2 linked regions of the Homo sapiens genome follow. The protein of the gene in region 1 interacts with the protein of each later gene in a pairwise test. Each region holds a gene or a part of one and is shown on either strand. Other genes may lie near its edges.

What was found.
Region 2: the proteins of EDA2R (region 1) and AGR3 interact in binary tests that used the Homo sapiens proteins (3 or more experiments, as listed by UniProt).

Annotation. Positions count from the first base shown.
Region 1 is NC_000023.11:66,612,840-66,623,683, reverse strand, and holds part of EDA2R (tumor necrosis factor receptor superfamily member 27), read left to right. Parts: intron 1-7,653; 5' UTR 7,654-7,663; coding exon 7,664-7,750; intron 7,751-9,070; coding exon of another isoform or gene 9,071-9,125; intron 9,126-10,844. UniProt on the Homo sapiens protein: Receptor for EDA isoform A2, but not for EDA isoform A1. Mediates the activation of the NF-kappa-B and JNK pathways. Activation seems to be mediated by binding to TRAF3 and TRAF6.
Region 2 is NC_000007.14:16,870,152-16,880,995, reverse strand, and holds part of AGR3 (anterior gradient protein 3 precursor), read left to right. Parts: intron 1-240; exon of another isoform or gene 241-272; intron 273-2,350; 5' UTR 2,351-2,377; coding exon 2,378-2,486; intron 2,487-7,152; coding exon 7,153-7,216; intron 7,217-10,844. UniProt on the Homo sapiens protein: Required for calcium-mediated regulation of ciliary beat frequency and mucociliary clearance in the airway. Might be involved in the regulation of intracellular calcium in tracheal epithelial cells.

The sequences.
Region 1 (10,844 bases):
AACAAGGAGGCCAGCATGGGTGGAGTGAAGACAATAAGGAAAAGAGTAGTAGAACTTAAGGTCAATAAATAATGGGGGAAATTGAGGTAGGCGTATCATCTAAGGTCTCTATTGGCCATTATAAGAACTTAATTTTTTAAAATATGAGCTCTTTATTATATGCCATACATCACTGTGTATATTTTATGTTTTTACATACCCATTCATTTTTTAAGTTATATCCAAAACTGTGTAGGACTTATGTGATATTATGAGTGAAAGAGGGAGCCATCAATGGCTTTTGAGGCTGGAAATGACATGATCTAACATGTTTTATCCCCTTTATCTTTATTTTCTATTCTCCCTAGAAAAAAATGGATAGACCTTGGGTTTCTCCCTCAACAGATTCTCTCTGAATATGGGGGAGAGATACAGAAAAACCTTTTTTTCTGACTGCATTTTATTTTCAGGTGAAACAGACAAGGTCAGAACTAAAAGAAAAGAGCCCTTAAAACTGTGATTTTCAACATTGACTGCACATGAGAATCACTTGGTGAACTGTAAAATGTAGCGTGCTCATGCCACATTTTTGACTAACTACAACAGAATCTTAGGGGAGGGACCCAGGTGTCACTATTTTTTGGCACTCCCAAGGTGCAACCAAGACTGAGAACCACTGGTCTAAGAGATTAGCCAAACCAACTCCCTCGTGGTATGAATGGAGAACTTGATTCCAGCATTGGGAAGGGATATTCTCCTGATGGCAGAGCTGGGACTAGGACCATTCACTATGCTGAGCTAAAACAGGAAATGCAAACTTTACAAATAGTGGGGCAGAAGGAAGATATGATGTTTGATAGTTTGGAAGGAGGTTATAAACAAGATAAACCTTGGATAGAAGTGGCCTTGGGTCAGTTCAGAAAAGGGAAAGGCTGAGTGCCAACACCAAAAGGTAAAGCAACATTTGAATTACAGGCCAGGCATCTGGAAATGATGGCACTGTACAGTTTAGAAGCTTGATTTTCAAGAAAGCAGTGTTCTCAAGGCTACGTTGAGCAACTTCTTTGATTCTGTCTTGTGCATGTGGGTGGATAGATGGGCTCGCAGTAGAGGAATGGGCAAGGCATGGAGACCATCTGCTGTCTTCTTCATCGTTTTTAATCCCACACCTCCTGCACTGTCCAGGCAAAGCAAATATCCTGAAGTACTGAGTTCTTAATTTAGACTTGTCCTTCTTTCCTGCCTACCCATACTACATAGAGAGAGCATGTTTCACCCCACAGGCATGTGTGCAAGTTGAGAAGAGCAGCAGCCACAAGCTGCAGCAAGGAGCAGCTGCACCCCCAGCAGCCTGGGTACCTCACATCCAGCAGAAACTTGGCCAACATCAATTATTCAGGGCATGATGAGCTAATTTGGGGATTACTATTGATGTCAGCTGTATTGTTTCTCCTCTTCCCTGTCTGCTTGCATTCTTAATCGTCTACATTATTTTTTGAGGAATCAGGACAGGGAGATGGGTGGGAAGAGCAGCCACATGACAGACAGGCAAAATAAGGGAATAATTCTAGTCATATTGCCACTTGTTGGCCCTTGTAAACACAATCAAGGTATATACAACACATACTTGGATAAGTTTGGGTGAGAAGTTGGATGAATCAAATTATATTTGGAGGCCTGTGTAAAAATATTCATAGCAGCTTTAACATTTTTTGGGGGGCTAACTTAAGCAATATCCTATTGGAATAATAAATTCAAAGTATTAAATAAAGCTAAAGAACCATCTTTTAAAATGAGATATAATTCACATACTATAAGATTTACCTTTTTAAAGTGTATAATTCACTAGTTTTAGCATATTCACAAAGTCACACGACCGTCACCACTGTCTAATTCCAGGGCATTTTCATGACCCTAGAAAGAAACATACCTATTCAGCAGTCACTTCCCATTTCCCTTTCTCCCCAGGCCCTGATATCCACTAAAGCTAGTTTATGATTGATTGCCTATTCTGGACATTTCATGTAAATAGAATCATACAACATTTGTCCTTTTGTGTCTAGCTTCTTTTATTTAGCATAATGTTTTCAACGTTCATTCATGTTATTGCACATGTTAAGCACATCATTCTTTTCTCTGACTGAATAATTTTCATTGTATGGATAAACCACATTTTGTTTACCATTTATCAGTTGATGAACATGTGGATTTTCCCCACTTTTTGGCTATTATAAATAATGCTGCTAGGAACATTTGTTTACAGGTTTTTGTATGAACACATGTTTTCAATTCTTTTGGGTATTTACACTTAGGAGTGAAATTGCTGGGTCATGTTGTAACATGATGTTTAACATTTTGAGGAACTGCAAAATTAATTTCCAAAGGGGCTGCATCATTTTGTATTCTCGCCAGCAATACACAAGGGTTCCAGTTTCTCCACATCCTTCTCCCCCAGGCTGGAGTGCAATGGCACGATCTCGGCTCACTGCAACCTCTGCCTCCCGGGTTCAAGCAATTCTCCTGCCTCAGCCTCCCAAGTAGCTGGGATTACAGGTGCCTGCCACCATCCCCGGCTAATTTTTGTATTTTTAGTAGATTCAGGGTTTCACCATATTGGCCAGGCTAGTCTTGAACTCTTGACCTCAGGTGATCCACCTGCCTCGGCCTCCCAAAGTGCTGGGATTACAGGCGTGAGCCACCGTGCCTGGCCGGCTATTTTTTTTTTTTTTTTTTTTTTTTGGTAGTGGATATAAAGTGCTGTTTTATTGTGGTTTTCATTTTCATTCCCTTTGTTGCTGATAACACCGACCATCTTTTCATGTGTTTATGGGCCATTTGTAAGTCTTAGAGTGATATCTATTCAAATTCTCTACTCATTTTTAAATTATCTATCTTTTTTTGAGTTGCAAGAGTTTTCTATATATTTAGATACAAGTCTCTTATCAGATATGTGATATGAAAATTTTTGTGTCCTATTATGTGGATTGTCTTTTCACTTTCTTGATGGTGTCCTTTGAAGCACAAACATTTTTAATTTTTAAATTTTGTTGACATGTCATTGTTCTGTTTTTCTCTCTTGTTGCTTGTGCTTTTGTTGTTATATCTAAGCAACTACTTCCTAATCCAGTGTCACAAAAATTTACACCTATATTTTCTTATAAGAAAAACATTAATTACAGAATTATTATGTTTTCTTGTAAGAAAACTTTTATAAGAGTTTTATAGTTTTAACTCTTACATTTGGGGATTTAGTCTATTGTGAGTTAATTTTGTATATGATATGAGGTAGGGGTCCGATTTGATTCTTTTGCATGTGGATATCCAGTTTCCCCAACACCCTTCTTTGAAAAGATTTTTTTTCTCATTGAATTTTCTTGGCATTCTTTAAAAAATCCATTGACCATAGTATAGCAACTCAATTTATAATGGCCTCAAATTAAAAGCAGTCCAATGTTTGCCAAGAAAAATATATAAATTGTGGTATATCCATACAATAGGATACTACACAACAATAGTAATTAACAAATGTTGCTACACAAAACATAATGGATAACTATCACAGACATTATAGTTATCAAGAGAAACCAGAAACAGAAGAGCGCATCTTGTATGATTCAAATTTATGTGAATTTCAAGGACAGGTATAACTAATTGTAGTGATAGAAGCCAGTGCTGTAATTATCTGGGGAGGAGTCGATATTGACTGGGAAGGGGCGTGAGGGAGCCTGCTGGGGTAATAGAAAAGTTCTGTGTATTTATTTGGGTGGTGTTTACATGGGCATGTACACAGTAAAAATTTATTAATTTATTTAATCTTTATGCTCCTTACTATGTATATGTTGTACTGCAATCAGAAACAGACAAAAAATCCCAGCATGTTACCCACATGAATTTTTAGAGCACTTCCACATTACCTCATCTGTGTAACTTCTGAGTTACACAGATCAGATATTCTCTGGGCAAGTTGGGAAGTTGGAGGAAGTATTTCAGGGTGTAGCTGACAAACAGTACAACTGAGTGGGTGATGCGCTTTAGCAGAATCAGAACCTCATCATGTGTTATACTCCATGGGATTGAGACAAGAGGCATCTGCCACTTCCCTTCCTCTCCCCAACCCTCAGTAATGTAAAGAGAACACAACCCCATGTCAGAGTTGGGGTGAAAAAAATGTTCTTGAGCAGCCATAACCTTAGGTTGTGGAGGTGAGAGGGACTGTTCTGTGGAAAATCATGTGCTATTTCATAAAGTCCATAATAACATCCTCACTTATTTGCAAATCTGATTTTATTTCTTTTTCACTTCCATTTCAAAGGCAATTGTCTCGGAAAAGTTTCCAAACGTTTGTTGACCAAGTTAATCCTATACAGAAATGCCTTGATGAAAAAAATCCAGCAAACACTTAGAACAATGTTTCTTTTAGCCAAGGTGGCTTAGGCACTGAGGGTATCTTGGAGAATCTTTTCCTTAAGCATCAGGTCACTGGTGGTTGCGATTAATGAGGAGGAAACTGCTATAGTGGCATCCATCTTAAACATGGCCTTCATGCTCCAGCTGAAATGGTCAATGAAGAAGCTTGGGTGCCTTTCCTTTTTCTTCCCCACACATCCCAAAAATGACAAATGTGCACTCCTTTTACTATAAACCTCACTCTTCTGAAGAGGAAAGAAGAAAGGGAACCTGCTAATTACCAAACGTCTCATATGTATCAAGCCCTATACTTGGTCCCTTAATATGTATTATTGCATTTAATTTTCTAAATTACTGTGCAGTATATTATTTAAACATCCATTTTGCAGATGAAAAAACTGATGCTGACAAAGGTAAAACTATTTGTTTGAGGATGCAGAATTAAAATTAAAACTCAAGTCTACATGTCCCTAACTAAGAGCTTTGCTCTTTTTTTGATGGATGTGAGGTTACTACTATTGTTTGGAAAGTCATTATCTTAAAGAGAAATGATCTATGTTGCTAGATTCATATGCATAGTTAACCATAGTCCAGGGAATGTAGCATGTTGATAAGCTAACAAATAGTAAGCACTGTTGAGGTACACACTCTGTGCCAGGTGCAGGGCTAGGCACTGGGCATGCAGTGGTCTCTACTCTTGGGAACTTTATAGGTCTGTATATATTGCCAACTTAGCCAGAAGTTTAGAGGATTCAGCCACATCCTTTGTGATACTTTGGAAGAGTGTCTAGCTGCAGTATGGAATACCTCAGAGTAACTATAATTTTCTGAAAACATAATTATTCTTTCTTATTTTTTCTTTTAAAAGGCGGTTACATATGCTACAGGAAACTGTTGATTACAGGGAAAAATTCATATAAGGTCTGACTTTCTCCCTAGGTAATGACATTTAACCCTTATTAGGTAGTTTTACACATACGCCCTGACCTCTTCAAAAGAGTCCAGAATCTATAATTTTGTTCTCTTTAATAAAGTCAATTTGTTAAGCGTCGAATGAAAGATAATTTAATTTGTATGCTTTGAATAAATAGTATGAGAAAAAAAGAGGGAAGGCTGGGCAAGGTGCCTCACGCCTTTAATCCCAGCACTTTGGGAGGCCGAGGCGGGTGGATCACCTGAGGTCAGGAGTTCGAGACCAGCCTGACCAATATGATGAAACCCTGTCTATACTAAAAATACAAAAATTTGCTGGGCATGGTGGCATGCTCCTGTAATCCCAGCTACTCGGGAGGCTGAGGCAGGAAAATCACTTGAACCCAGGAGGCAGAGGTTGCAGTGAGCCAAGACTGTACCATTGCACTGCAACAAGAGCAAAACTCCATCAAGGAAGGAAGGAAGGAGAGAGAGAGAGAAAGAAAGGAGGAAAGGAAGGAAGGAAAGAAGGAAGGAAGGAAGGGAGGGAGGGAGGGAAAAAAGAGGGGAGAGAAAGTCCCTCTGCTCAATTTGGCACCAAGCCTGCCTTGCCTAGACAGAGGTTTCAAAGCCATGGTTAGAGAGACATGTTGGGGTTTAGGACACATGATGTTTATTAGGGGGGTGGAGCTCTAGAAACCAAATGAAATAGGATGTCTCAGACCCTCAAATGCCAGCAGCAGTTGTCATGGAGATTTTAAACGCCTATGTTGGGAACTTAGCTCAAAAAGAGGGCTACTTCTTGGTTCCTGCCAATGTTTTTCTGTTTTGTGGGCAAAAAGGGATATGAGAAAGTTGTCCAGAGCAGTTTCCTGGCCCTGTTACTGTGGTGCTTAACTTCCTGGTCATGAAGGCTATGAGAATACTGAAGTTTTCTGTTCTCAAGGAGAAGAGTGCATGGCAAGGGGAGGGAAGCATGCCTACTGAGGCCAACACCATGGGCCAGCAATCAAATCAGCACAGAAGACAGTATGTTTATCTTATGCAAGCATGGATCTTGTAGCCCACTTTCCTTTGAATGAAGGAATGGGAAAGAATGGCCCAGTTGATGATGAAAAAAAGGTGCACTTATGGAATGCCATTTAGAATGACTTAACCTGTCGCTTTTGGGGAACTTTGAGTGGAGGAGTGGTGGCCTCTCAAGGTACACATGTACACTCTCGTCTCTTCTGACTAAGAGTACACATTTAGGACTTTGGCACTTTTAGAAACCACTTGAAATTCACCCTAGTATGAAGTCATGAGTAAGTAAAGAACCTCATGCTACCTTTCTCTTTGAGTAGGATAAGCCCCATTTATGAATTACTTTAGCCCCTTCATTAAAATTCCTCTTTGTAGAAGACAACCTTTCTGCATACTTAACTCTGTCTTATTTTGTATAGCTCTTTAGAATGGTTTGATGGACCTTAGCTCCTTTAACCCTCCCAAGAGCTATATACAATAGGTGAAGAACATTCTATCCCTTTTTCTTAGATTAAGTAACCGAGGCCAGAAAAGATAAAGTGATCCATCCCAGATTGTAGATTGAAAGGGTAAGAGCCAGGCTTGGTGAACAGCCATCCCACTTCAATGCTAGCTCTACTGCTATATGCATCTGTATTCCAAGAACTATTATCTGAGTAATGTTTCCCTATCTGTGCACCTTTGTGCACCAAAATATGTCTACATTCTGGGTTATTCTCCCCTCCCATTCTGCCTAAGACAGAAGCTATGGCAGGTATTGGTCCTCAGAGGTACTGAGGCCACTGTTGGCAAAGAGAAACAATGTTTCAGCTTTTTCAGTTATAAAATAAAGATGACAATCTCTATAATGCTTACCTCACATGGATGTTGTGTAGATCAAATAATAATAGATGTGAAAGTACTTTCTAAATTGTTATGATCTGTTCACACATGAGGGATTGTGATTATTCTTTACCCCCTGGGCAGAAGCCAACTCCTTGTCTTATTACTCTCTTTACAAATTCAGCTCCTGGTATAGCCACTGACTGTGAATTTGAGCAAATTGCTTGGTCTCTTTGCCTCAGTTTCTTCATCTGTAAAATGTTGCTAACAATAATTCTTAATATGATTGTCTTGAGAATGGAATGAGTTACTACATGCAAAGCATTTACAAGAACTCATGGCACATGGTCAGAGCTACATAAGCATTAACTCTTTTGTGTTGGCTTCCTCGTCCCTACTATCTCAGATCTAGAGAATAGATTAAGGGGACCCAGAAGCCAAGTGGCATGGAAGCCACTACTTATAGTCCCTTCCCACTAGCTTGCTAGTTCTTGTGTTCTCTACCCACAGCCTTCCCACCATGGATTGCCAAGAAAATGAGTACTGGGACCAATGGGGACGGTGTGTCACCTGCCAACGGTGTGGTCCTGGACAGGAGCTATCCAAGGTAAGTTATCCTATTCAGTACACTTATTTCTGTTGCATCTTAGGAACCAGCCCGGCAACTGAAAGAGGCCAAGATTAGGGGAGTCAGCCCTACTTATGACTGATCCAGTTCAGCGGGTAAAACCTGGGATCCACAGAGTATGCAATAGCAGTCATGATTCCAGCATGAAGTCAGCCTAGCAGGATCAAGGTCAAGGGAAGTTTCCATGAGATAACAGAGTATTTCAAGAATAGATGTGTAATGCAGAGACCCATGAGGACTGTTCAGCATTAGGGTAATCTGTCATCTAAAGCAAGGCCCAACCACATGGTGTTCAAGAGCCAGATATCAGGTCTTAGGAATGAGAAAGAGAGAAGAGCCAAGAAGACCTCTGTTCTAGAGGGTCTGCGCTACTGAGGAAGCTGTGCAATGGAGAATATAGGGATAGGGAACCACGGAGGGTCTAAAATCCCAATTAAAGATAAGGATCAGAATAAAATGACCAGCAAGGCAGAGACTTTATGTAACTTACTTGTTTCAAGCCTGGATCTGCTTAATTGTTCTTTCCTCAGGTCCCTTGTAGGTCCCTGAACTTGGGGGTGGTATTAAATTTTGGCTGCAGCTGGGGCTACAGAGGCCAGAAGCAAGCAGCTAGCAGATGGTTTCTGCATATTCACACTCTATTTTATGCAATTTTTGTTTATTCAGCAGTTGCTTATTGAACACTTGCAGAGTGGCAGGCATGGTTGTAGACACCATGGATATGGCAGAACAAACAAAAATATTTGCCTTCATGGACCTTACCTTCTATTATTAGTGAAAAAATAATAATTGAGACACATACAGAGATAAATGAAGAATCTGGATATGAAGATATGAGAAGAATCAAATTAGGGTGACTGGGTGGCTACTTCAGATTATGAAACAAGGAAAGGTCTCCCTAAGGAGACAGCCTCTGGGGAGAGGATACTAGTGCAGAGTCCCAAGGTGAAAATGAACTAGGCATTTTGAAGGAAAAGGAGGAAGGTAGTGCAATGGGTGTATGGTGAATGAGAGGGAGGGTAGTACACAAAGAGGTCAGAGAGAGAAGTATAGACCAGACCAGATAGCAGCTTGAGGTCTATGAGAAATTTTCATCTTTCTCTAAGTGCATTAGGAGCTCTTTGGAGGGTTTTGGGTTGGAAAGTTATAGGAATCTGTGGCTGGAAAACAACATAATAATTATCTAGCCCACTTTATTCCTACCTTTGTATTTTAAAAAATGAAGAGAATAAGGCGCAGGGATATCAAGAGATACAAGCACTAATTCTAAGTTTTTACACATGGCATTATGTCCCACAGTGGGGTACCCACATGGTTGATAAAGGATCCCAGTACCAAGGAAAGATCGCCAGAGGTAAGGTCATGCTGGACATTAAAATAGATATTAAAGCTTATATATGTGTAATACATATAAGCTTTAGAGCCAGATACACATGGGCATGAGTCCCATCTTTGCTCTGGGCAAATTATTTCACCTCAGAATCAATTAGGATGTAGTAAGTTGAAAGTAACATAAAATTTAACCATGACATGAACCATAAGTATATTTATTTATGTAATGAAGTCTGGAGACAGGCAACCTTTTTGCTTGTTGGGCAGATCAGCAATGTTATCAAGGACTCAGCCTCTTTTCATCCTTCATATTGGACATCTTGCTGTTTTGTTCTCATTGTGGCCTCATGATTGCAAAACTCAAAGCATCATATCTCCATACAATAGTCAAAGTCAGGAATCAGGGGCAAGGTCAAAATAGCTTGCCTTTTGTAGGGAAGAAGTCTTTTCCCAGAAGCTGTCCAACAGATTTTTCCTTATATCTTATGGTCCAGAACTGGGTGATGTAGCTATCTTTAGCTGGAATAGAGACTGGGAAATAAGTATCTGGCCAATGAGAATGGGATTGTGTGATTAAGACCAATCAAGAATCCGTTCTGGAGGCTAGTCTTCATGCCACCTAGAATGAAATCAGTGTTTTTATAGTAAGGAAGAAGAGGGGCAATTGTTTGAATAAGCAGCTAGAAGCATCTGATAGCCTTTTTTAAAGTAACTTTTATTTACTTTTAAATTTTACTCATGAATTATAAACATCACTGTAAATAAATCATTGCAGAAAATTAACACCATTTCCTCAGGACATTTTTCTTGATGTATAATTGCCAAGCTAAATAATGCGTACGATTTTAAGACTCTTGAAATATATCAGCAGATAACACTTCTGAATTTTGTTTATACTAATTTCTATTACCATTACATTTATTTTCAACAGTGCATAGAATTCCTGTTGTGGCCCTCTGTTCGGGGTCCCTGACTTCCCACAACAAATTCCCATGTCCCAGAAGCCTAAACGCAAATGAATAATAGATATTTTCATGATCTATTAATTTTATGCCTTCCTTTTAACAGTAATTACTAATTTATGAGGACTTTATGAGAATTTTGGTTTTACTTTTTATCTATTTGATAGGGGAAATGTACCAACTTTACTGTGTTTATTTGCCCATTTGCCTTTCCAATTTTGTGATCTATTTCTGATTGTTTCTCTTTCTATTCTTTCTATTCATTATGTATTGTTCTTTGTCTACTCACATAAGGAACCTAAGTAGACAGACATATAGTAGATAACAGAGTATTTTAAAAATCGTTTAAAATGTAAGTATATTTGTATTTAAAAACCAGAAATGCTTTTAAATTTTGTTTCATTTTAGTATCATCTGTTGATTTGTAAATATATTTTCCCTTTGATGTATTAATTTGATGACATGTATTAATAAATTCCTAAAATTTAAATATCCTGCATTCCCAGTATAAACCATTCTTGATTATAGTTTTAAGGTAAATACCCTTTTATGTTGTATAAGTTAGTATTTTAACTAAAACAAATAATTATTATTGTAACACTATCAGCATCAAAATTTTGGATCAGCATTGTGCTACCATGGCAAAATCAAGAATATCAATGTTTTCTGGCTATAAAAGTGGTTAATAGCAAAAGAAATTTTGCACCTTAATGATTTGAAAGAACTTCCTTTGCCTCCTAATTATGAAGGAGAATTCTCAATAAATTTTTAATGATAAT
Region 2 (10,844 bases), on another chromosome or scaffold:
ACAGAGGCAGATAAAATTTTGCACACAATTTCCAGGGGTTTTGAGCCTTCTGTAGCTCAGCCACAGGCCTTCTAGAAGCCTGCTGGATCCAGGTTAAGATCCTGTCCTAGGTGGTTGCTTTAGTTCCTCCACTGCAACTCCCAACCTGTCTAACTAAGGCTGCCTTCCCTGGGTTGAGCTTTGTGTTCCAGAGTCAACTGTCCCTGTCCTGTACTAAAATCCACCCTGTATTTGTTTCAGTCTTTAAAGTACAAGATGACCAAGGCCTTAAGGTACAAGATGACATTCTGAAATGTTTTATGGTTTAATAAGTTATGAGAACTTAAACTGAAATTCTTATCAGGCACCGTGATAATTGTTTAACAGGGTTTTTATATGCCTGGAAAGAAAGGACAGGAAAGGAGGGGAAAGGAGGGGAGAGGAGGGGAAAGGAGGGGAAAGGAGGGGAGAGGAGGGGAGGGGAGGGGAGGGGAGAGGAGGGGAAAGAGGAGGGGAAAGGAGGGGAAAGGAGGGGAAAGGAGGGGAGAGGAAAGGAGTCCGGGCGATGTAGCTCACCCTTGTAATCCCAGCACTTTGGGAGGCCGAAGCAGTTGGATCATTTGAGGTCAGGAGTTTGAGATCAGCCTGGCCAACATGGTGAAACCCCATCTCTACTAAAAATACAAAAATTAGCCGGGCATGATGGTGGACACCTGTAGTCCCACGTACTTGGGAAGCTGAGGCAGGAGAATCGCTTGAACCTGGGAGGCGGAGGTTGCAGTGAGTGGAGATGGCCCCACTGCACTCCAGCCTGGGTGACAAGAGCAAAAAAAAAAAAAAAAGAAAGAAAGGAGAGAGAAAGAAAAGAAAGAAAGAGAGAGAGAAAGAGGAAGGAAGGAAGGAAGGAAAGAAGGAAGGAAGGAAGGAAGGGGAAAGAAGGAAGGGGAAGGAAGGAAGGGGAAGGGAAGGAGGGAGGGACAACTGGGGATTAGGGAGGGAAATAAAGTAAGGTTAACCTGGAGTGGTAACTATTTTCAGTCCATAGAGGGGCTGCAATAGATACACCACTGGGAAGGGGAAAACAGTATAATGGGAGGAATGAGGAAATGTCTGGAGAAATCTAGAATCTGTAAACTTCTTTACCACCAAATTGTTGTTCTCCTCCACGACTGCGGTTGCTACTTTACAATAACTAGGTGATTAAAATTGCCAAATGTTTTACCAATGCCAAAACATTGTGTCTTATATATCTTTTCATTTTCCACAATGCCTACTACAATAAAATATAGCAACATCTTTGTTTGAACAGAATCACTAAAGAATCAGTCACTAGCCATTTTGGCTAAGGAAATTTTACTATTTTGGTGATGAGTTCAATACTAAATAATGTAAGCCAATAGGAAAGACGTCTTAAAGGAACTTCAAATCAATGTGAATGATGTCTGTATATTTATTTTATATTTTGAGGTAAAGTTTCAAAACTGCATGAGTCAACCATTTTCAAATCAGTTTTATATGCTAATGCTGTAACTAAACATCTCACAAGTATTAAAGACTTCCTGTAATATATTTATCAAGTGGTTTATGACCAGATCAGGCCCAACTTTGGACTTCAGTTTTTATCTTAACGTGCAAAGTATAAAAGATGCACATTGAGTTAAGAATCAGTTTGAATTCTAGCTAACCAGGAGAGAATGTAATCATGACAGTCTATTCTTCTCTATACATATGTCTAATTTATAGTAATATGATAGTACTTGATTTTTATAAAGAGCTGTATCATAAACTGAAGGGCAAAAGTCTGAGTAATTGTTGGAAGGATGAGAAAGGTAAGAAACTATAAAGGAACTGAAGGACAAGAATCCTCCATATTCTATTTTTCCTCTGATTTCTATTTTAAGCAATATTTATTCATGTATAATCTTATCTTAGTATAGAGTTAAAATATTTTGACCTATTAGATGAAGGAGAATCAAAAGGCAAAGAATATTTCTGCATGCTAAAAGTCACTTCATAGTTTACAAGACATCAAACAACATGATCTTATTTGAGTTTCGTCTTGTTGGTGTGAACACTACAGGGCGGTTCAGAAGCAGGCTTCGTGTGCCCTGATCCAGCTCTTTTTTAATTATACAGCACCATGCCCAGGAGGCTCAGAACATGACTTCTCACCAACTGAGCATGTACTGAGTTGATTAAGTATTTTAAAAATAAAATGTGAATGAAAGTTCTATGTGGTTGGTTATACCATGTCAAACCAAAAAAGCTGAACAGTCTGTCATCACAGTATTGGTCCAACTCTTAGCAAATATCTTCTAATAATAGCTTGAAGTAATTCACTGGATTCTGAGAATTCCTTTCTGTCATCTAGCTTCTTCTGAGAGAGTCTCTAGAAGACATGATGCTACACTCAGCTTTGGGTCTCTGCCTCTTACTCGTCACAGTTTCTTCCAACCTTGCCATTGCAATAAAAAAGGAAAAGAGGCCTCCTCAGACACTCTCAAGAGGTGCTGTAATCTCATTTTATTTTCTAAACTCAGTCATTTGGATTGCTTTTTAAAATATCTGGTGTCTTCACTCATAGTCTAATTATAAAGCAAATTCAACTAACTGAATGATTTTTGTTGTGTGTGACTTCAAAATGGATTTTTTAAAACAGAAGGAATCAGTTTATTTTAGGCAGTGAATCAAATCAACTAGCAAACAATAACATAAATTTGCATTATCTTTTGCCAAAATAATGGAGAATTGGCTCGCTGTCTATAACTTTGGTAACCAGAGTCCTAGAAAATAATGATTGATTGCTGCGTCATATTGGTGTCCTAATAGCAATTTAAGATTCCTCAAAATTTGCTCAAATTCCCAGTCCTCTATTTCCCAGTCCTCCAAAAAAAAAAAAATTGGAATAATTTTATATAAGCCTTCCCAGAAAATTATACTATACCCCAAACTCTGAGAATTCGGGGTAACTAAGTCTTTGCTATATTGACTCTGGAAGACAGTGGTTTTAGACATAATCAAGGATTGCCGGTGGCTACATGTTTAGAAACATTTCTTTTTGTACTTACTGTTTTACTTGGCCCAAGAAACAAATATATATTCATCTGTAAAGAAACATTTTATTAAAAAAAATTCTCTCTTTTTTTTTTTTTTTGAGACGGAGTCTTGCTCTGTCACCCAGGCTGGAGTGTAGTGGCACGATCTTGGCTCACTGCAAGCTCTGCCTCCCGGGTTCACGCCATTCTCCTGCCTCAGCCTCCCAAGTAGCTGGGACTACAGGCGCCCGCCACCATGCCCGGCTAATTTTTTGTAGTTTTAGTAGAGACGGGGTTTCACCGTGTTAGCCAGGATGGTCTCGATCTCCTGACCTTGTGATCCGCCCGCCTCGGCCTCCCAAAGTGCTGGGATTACAGGCGTGAGCCACCGCGCCCGGCCAAGAAAATATTCTCAAAGTTAGTTTCTATATCTCTAAGTAACAGAAGTAGGAACAGAATTATTTGTCCCCATATAGCTATTCAAAATCAGCAGTATTACCACAAAGTACTTGACCATTTGTTTGCTCCATTCATATTACCACTGCAAATAGTAGTCAAGTGCCTTGGAGTAATACTGCTAGTTTTGAATAACCAAGTGGGAACAAATAATTCTGTTCCTACCTCTGATATATATATAAAATATATATAATTATAACATACAAATTATATATTATATATACTATATATTATATATAATATATATCATAGTATACATTTGTGTTATATTATAATAAATTATATATAAATATATGCTATAATTATAAATATATATTATATAATTTCAAATTCTAAAACACTGACTTGCTTCCCAAGTACATTCATTTCTTAACAGATGTATTGAGTGCCAGCCAAGTGCTCATCAATGTTTACCTAAGCTAATTAACTCTACTTCAGTTTAACAAACACACAATCTATATATACAGAAAGTCAACATATTTTTGCAAAAGAAAGGAATGAAAAAGTTGAAATATTTTCCTAAACATAACTCTATCTCTCTGTATAAGCATAACTGTTGTAAAACAATGAGCTCAGTAGCCCTAAAGTGACAAAGACTAAACTAGTTATTGCCCTTAAAGATTTTCCATGTCTGCATTAAGCAGCACTGTGATAACTATACGTCAAGGCATCAACATTCTGTGTGCTCACTTCTAAATATTTATTTAAAACTCTTGTTGAATGTTTTGAAAAAATATATTACATTTGTATGCCCTATTTTAAACAACTTAAAGGTTCTATTATTTCAATTGATAAGAAACTAATTTAACACAGAAGATGACTGATATTAGCTGAGAACACCATTATTGAGAATTGGTTTATATTTGGCAAAGTCTTTTACCATCTATTGCTACATGGGAGATAATGGAGAGAATGAGGCTCAGAATGAATGAAGATTAAAGGTAGGGGTGAGTGGGAGAAGTCTGGATACAGTATAAAGAGTGGCATATGGAGCCCCTTAGAGCACAGGGCAGCACTAGTTAAGTAGAGAAGGCAGTAAGGAGAAAAGGAAGATTAATTAGAAAAAGGTAGAAGAAGGTTCAGGGAGAAAAAAATACACACACATAGAATGATCCAAAAAAAATCCAATTTCCTTTGAATCAGAATTGCTGAGTACCTAGTCCAGTGATTGGCGGATAGTAAATATTTAATAAATATATGTTAGATAAATGAATAAAATCTCAAAAGACAAGAAAATATAGCCAGAGATAGAGATAGGGCTAGAATTAGAGTAATGAGCAGAAGCCATGAAGTGCATTTAAACTGTGTAACAGCTTTGACCTATTGTGATTATAACAGAGTAAATAAAAAATCATTATAATGCAATATGGCTTTTCTACAGAGCTATGGACAATTTGTTGAGAATAGGGATTATATTGCTCTATGTTTGTATTCCCACTGCTTTGTGGAGTAAGTTATGCAGCAGATGTTCCTTTACTGTTTGTGGAACTAAATTGAGCAGGAGCAGAGAATAGAAATTTTCCCCACTGCTAATGCTCCATCATTGAATGATATTTGCAACAGAAGAGGGAAAATTCAGCAGAGGCCTCGTCTCACTTGCTGTTTTAGAATAACTTTTACTTAATGCAAAATGTGATGTATAGATATTGCATGTGTTCAACCAAAGTTGGAAAGAGAATCTTTCAGGATTATTACAGAGAGCAAGAGTTCCTGTTAAGATGTGGCATTAAACTAACAAGAGATGTTTTTCAATGTTAAGATTTTAAATCAGGCAAAAAAAAACAAAAAACAAAAATGTTGCTGGTGAGTATATAAAATGATGCATCTACTTTAGAAAATAACCCGGCAGCTCCTCAAAAAGCTAAATACAGAGTGACCATTTGATCAGCAGTTCCACTCCTAGGTATATACCCAAGATAAATGAAAATATATACCACTGAAAAACTTGTATATGTATGTTCATAGCATCATTATTCATAAAAGACAAAAAGTGGAAACAACCCAAATATCATTAACTGATGAACAGATAAATAAAATATGGTATATTCATACAATGGAATAATATTTGACCATAAAAAATGAATTAAATAATAATACATGGCACTATAAGGATGAACCTTAAAAAGGTTATGCTGAGTGAAAAAATCTAGTCACAAAAGCCTACATATTGTATGATTCCATTTATATGAAATGTCCAGCATAAGCAAATCTATAGAGACAGAAAGTAGATTAGGGGTTTCTTAGGGCTGTGGCATTTGAAGAAAATGGGGAGCAGGTGATAGCTAAATGGTATAGGGTTTCTTTTTGAGGAGATGAAAATGTTCTAAAATTGATGTGATGATGGTTGCACAACTTCGTGGATATACTGAAAAAAGCACACATTTTCTTTTTTTCTTTTTTTTTTTTTTTTTGAGATGGAGTCTCGCTCTGTTACCCAGGCTGGAGAGCAGTGGCGCAATCTTGGCTCACTGCAACATCCACCCCCAGGTTCAAGCGATTCTCCTGCCTCAGCCTCCCGAGTAGCTGGGACTACAGGCACATGCCACCACACCCAGCTAATTTTTGCATTTTTAGTAGAGACAGATTACACTGTATTGACCAGGCTAGTCTTGAACTCCTGACCTCAAATGATCCACCCACCTTGGTCTCACAAAGTGCTAGGATTACAGTCATGAGCCACCATGCCTGGCCAAAAGTATACGTTTTCAATAGGTGAGTTGTATTGGCGTATGAATTTTATTTCAATAAAGCTGTCGCCAGAAAACAAACATGAAAAACAAGCAAAAATCATGGAATCATATTTATCAAATTACTATCATATTTACCATGATATTAAAGCCAGAAACTGTGGTCTGACAACATTTGAAATGTACAAGAAAACCTGGGCCCAAACTGACTTCCAAATATTGCTAATTTTCACATTAATTCAATCTCTCTCATTCGTAGACTGAGACACTTCCTGAAAATACTCAGTAATGTTTTTGGAGGTTCTGCACATTCTTCTACTTGATGATTTTATCTTTAATTGCTTATACACATTCCCAACTATTCATACCATTTCTTTAAGGCTAATGGGTTCTCTCTATATTCATTGCTTTCTGTTTTTTCTCTCCATTCTTTTGGGTGTTTCCAAAACACATGCGTTTTATTATGTCTCTTGGCCATGAAATTCCCACACAAGAATTTTTTCCATGTCAGAATTCAAAGCAAAACTTGGAATTCCCTTATTTCACAACGTATACTGACTTAGAAGAGGTCAACATCTCTTGGGACCCAAAATAGGAGGGCATTGTAGAGTACAGCCGAAAGGATTCCTAATAATATTACAAAGTATGCAAAGATGAACTGTTACTTTCCAAGCGTTCCTAAAGCCACAGCTTTTACATTATCCAAAGATGTCCTTTCAATCAGCTCTAATCATAACAACATGTATTGAGTACTTACTGGGTTCAAGGCCATGGGCCTCGAGGTTTGAAATGCAGTAGCAAAACCTCAGTACTGCAATCTAAAGGGAAATCACCTCCATATCTTGTGAAAATTGTGTGTCCTCTGCACCATATGTCAGCCAACAGCTTGATGGCTTAGTTAAATATCTGTAGGTAGATATCTGATTATTAGATACCCATTTCCGAGCTCTTCTCTAGTTCTGGGTTACTGCATTGATTTCTCTCTTCTATTTCAGGATGGGGAGATGACATCACTTGGGTACAAACTTATGAAGAAGGTCTCTTTTATGCTCAAAAAAGGTAACATGCTTCTCAGCTCATTTTTTTCCTTTTATTTGTAGTAGACTCATAATAATTGTACATATTTATGGAATATAGAGTGATATGCTGATACATGTACACAATGTGTAGTGATCAAATCAGTGTAATTAGCATATGCATCACCTGAAACATATCATTTCTTTCTGGTGGGAACACTCAAAATCCTCTCTACTAGCTTTTTAAATATATACAATAAACTATTGTTAACTGTATGTACCCTATAGTGCTGTAGAATACTACTCAAACTTATTCCTCCTATCTAGCTATATTTTTGCATCTATTAATCAACCTCTCCTTATCCTTCCAGCTCTGAACCCTCCCCAGCTTCTAATAACCAGAGTTCTACTCTCTACTTCTATTAGTACAACTTTTTTTTAAGCTACTCTATATGAGTCAGAATTTGTGGTATTTATCTTTCTATATCTGACTTATTTCACTTAACACATCCTCCAGGCTCATTCATGCTGCTGTGAATGAGAGCATTTCATTATTTTTATGTCTGGGTAGTAGTCCACTGTGAATATATAACATGTTCTCTTTATCCATCCATCCATTGATGGACATTTAGGTTGATTCTATATCTTGGCTATTGTGAATAGTGATTCCATAAATATGGAGATGCAAATATCTCTTTGATATACTGATTTTTTAAATAAATACTCAGTAGTAGGAAAGCTGGATCATATGGTAGTTATATTTTTAGTTTTCTGAGAATCCTCTATATGTTTGCATAATGGCTGTACTAATTTACATTCCTACCAACAGTGTATAAGAATTCCCTCTTCTCTGCATCCTCACCAGCATTTGTTATTTTTTGTCTTTTTGATAATATCAGTTCTAACTGTGGTGGGATAATATCTCATTGTGGTTTTGATCTGCCTTTCCCCGATGATTAGAGATGTTGAGAATTTCTTCATATCCTTGGCCATTTGTGTGTCTTCTTTTGAGAAATGTCTATTCAGATCTTTTGCCCATTTTAAAATCAAATCATTTGGGGTTTTTTGTTGTTGAGTTGTTTGAGTTCCTTGTATATTCTAGATATAGGCCCATGTCGAATGAATAGTTTGCAAATAATTTCTCCTATTCTACAGTTTGTCCCCTTATGCTTTTGTTTCCTTTGCTGTTCAGATGCTTCTCAGGTGACATAGTCCCATTTGTCTATTTTTGTTTTTGTTGCCTGTGCTTTTGAAATCTTACCCATACATTTTTTTGCAGGGAACAATGTCCGAAGGGCTTCCCTTATATTTTCTTCTAGGAGTGTTATAGTTTGGGGTCTTACATTCAAGTCTTTAGTCCATTTTGAATTGATTTCTGCATATGGTAAGAGTTAGGAGTCTAGTTTCATTCTTCTACATATGGATATCCAGGTTTTCCAGCACCATTTATTGAAGAGGGTGTCCTTTCCCCAATGCATGTTCTTGCCACCTTTGTTAAAAATCAGCTGACTTTAAATACGTGGATTTATTTCTGGGTTCTCTATTCTATTCCATTGGTCTAGGTTTCTGTTTTTATACAAATACCATGCTGTTTTGTTTACTATAGCTTTGCAGTATATTTTGAAGTCAAGTAGTATGATGCCTGCAGTTTTGTTCTTTTCACTCAGTATTGCTTTGAACTATTTGGAGTCTGTTGTGGTTCTATACAAATTTGAAGATTTTTTTCTTTCTGTTTCTGTGAAAAATATCATTGGTATTTTGATAGAGATTGCATTGAATCTGTAGATTGCCTTTGGTGGTATGGTCATTTTAGCAAAATTCATTCTTCCAATCCATGGCATGGGATGTCTTTCCATTTTTTGGTGTTCTCTTCAATTTCTTTCATCAATGTTTTATAGTTTTTCTTGTAGGGATCTTTCACCTCCTTGGTTAATATATTCCTAGGTGTGTGTGTGTGGTTTTTGTTTGCTTGTTGTTTTTTTGAGATGGAGTCTTGCTCTGTCACCAGGCTGGAGTACAGTGGCGCGATCTCAGCTCGCTGCAACCTCTGCCTCCCAGGTTCCAGTGATTCACCTGCCTCAGCCTCCTGAGTAGCTGGGATTATAGGCACATGCCACCATGCCCAGCTAATTTTTTATTATTAGTAGAAACAGGGTTTCACCATGTTGGCCAGGCTGGTCTCGAACTCTTGATCTCAGGTGATACGTCCACCTCAACCTCCCAAAGTGCTGGGATTACAGGCGTTAGCCACCACGCCTGGCCTTTTTGTGGTTATTGTAAATAGCATTGCTTTCTTGTTTCTTTTTTTCAGCTAGTTTGTTATTGTTGTATAGAAATGCTACTGGTTTTGCATGTTGATTTTGTATCCTCCACTCTCCGTTAATTTTAACAGATCATATAGATACCTCATTGATGAATCAAAAAAAAGCATTTTAGTTTTCAAAAGGATGCCACAAGTATTTGCTCTGCTATTGTATGCCAAAGGGACTAATAGTTGCTATTAGAATACATTTTATAAACAAAAGCTCTAAATACCTCTGTATTAATGTCTTCATTACTCAATCAAGCTTTTGAGTATGTTGTATAAACAAAGCAGTATTATTTATTAGGCAGTATACAAGCTTAGACAGAAAACTGGTTTAGGGCAGCAGTTCTAAGGCCTGCCTGTTTGAATATTAGAGCAATTTGAGTAGCTTTTTTAAAAATCCAAATTTATAATTAATCAGTCAAGTATTCCTTGAATGTCCACTGCTATGTACCAGACACTGTTCTAGGCTCAATAACCAAGTATACCATTTTTATTCTTAAAGACCTACTAAGTCTTTGGGAATGAAGCTGAGAAACATATTATTAAAAGCTCCCCAAGAATGAATGAAATATCTAAAGAACATTCTATTGCAATACTCTTTAAAGATAAATTAAGATTCCAAATTAACTATTGTTTCAATATTGGACAAGCATTAGAAAAGAAAGAAGTCTACAGAAGAATCTCACTTCCAAATATCGGTGTAACAAACAAACAACATATTAGTAAGGAGCACCAGCAGAACATTTAAAAATATACCCTGACAAATTGAGATTTAGCCTGGGAATGCCAGAGTGGTTTAGGATTAAGAAATGTACTAATTAAAATAATTTAATATTTATAAGGAGACAATTCATACAAGTATGTCTAATCTCCACCAATTCTGAAAATGCATTATAGAATAAAACATCTATATTTGAATTTTTAAGACTTTGTATTTGACAATATTAATTTCTTTAAATTAATCCCAACAACAGCATTCCAACAGTAGCAACAACAACAAAAAACCAACATTATGCTTACTGGGAAAACAAATAGAAGTGTCCCATTAAAGTGTGGATAAGACAAGTATATCTACAACCACAACAATTACTAACATTTTTCTGAAGTACTAACACAATTATAGAAGGAAAAAGTAGAAAATGTAGAAAGGAAAAGTTAAAATTATCTTTATGTGCAAATGATAATTTATATACGTGAAAAACTAAAAAAATTTAAATATTCAGAATAACAAAAATTCTGTTGAATTAGATGAGAATAAATTGATATTTAAAAATTGACTGCATTTATATATAGAAAAACACATCCAAAAAAACTTGTTAAATACCTCATTTACAATGACAAAAAAGAAAATACCCCAGAATAA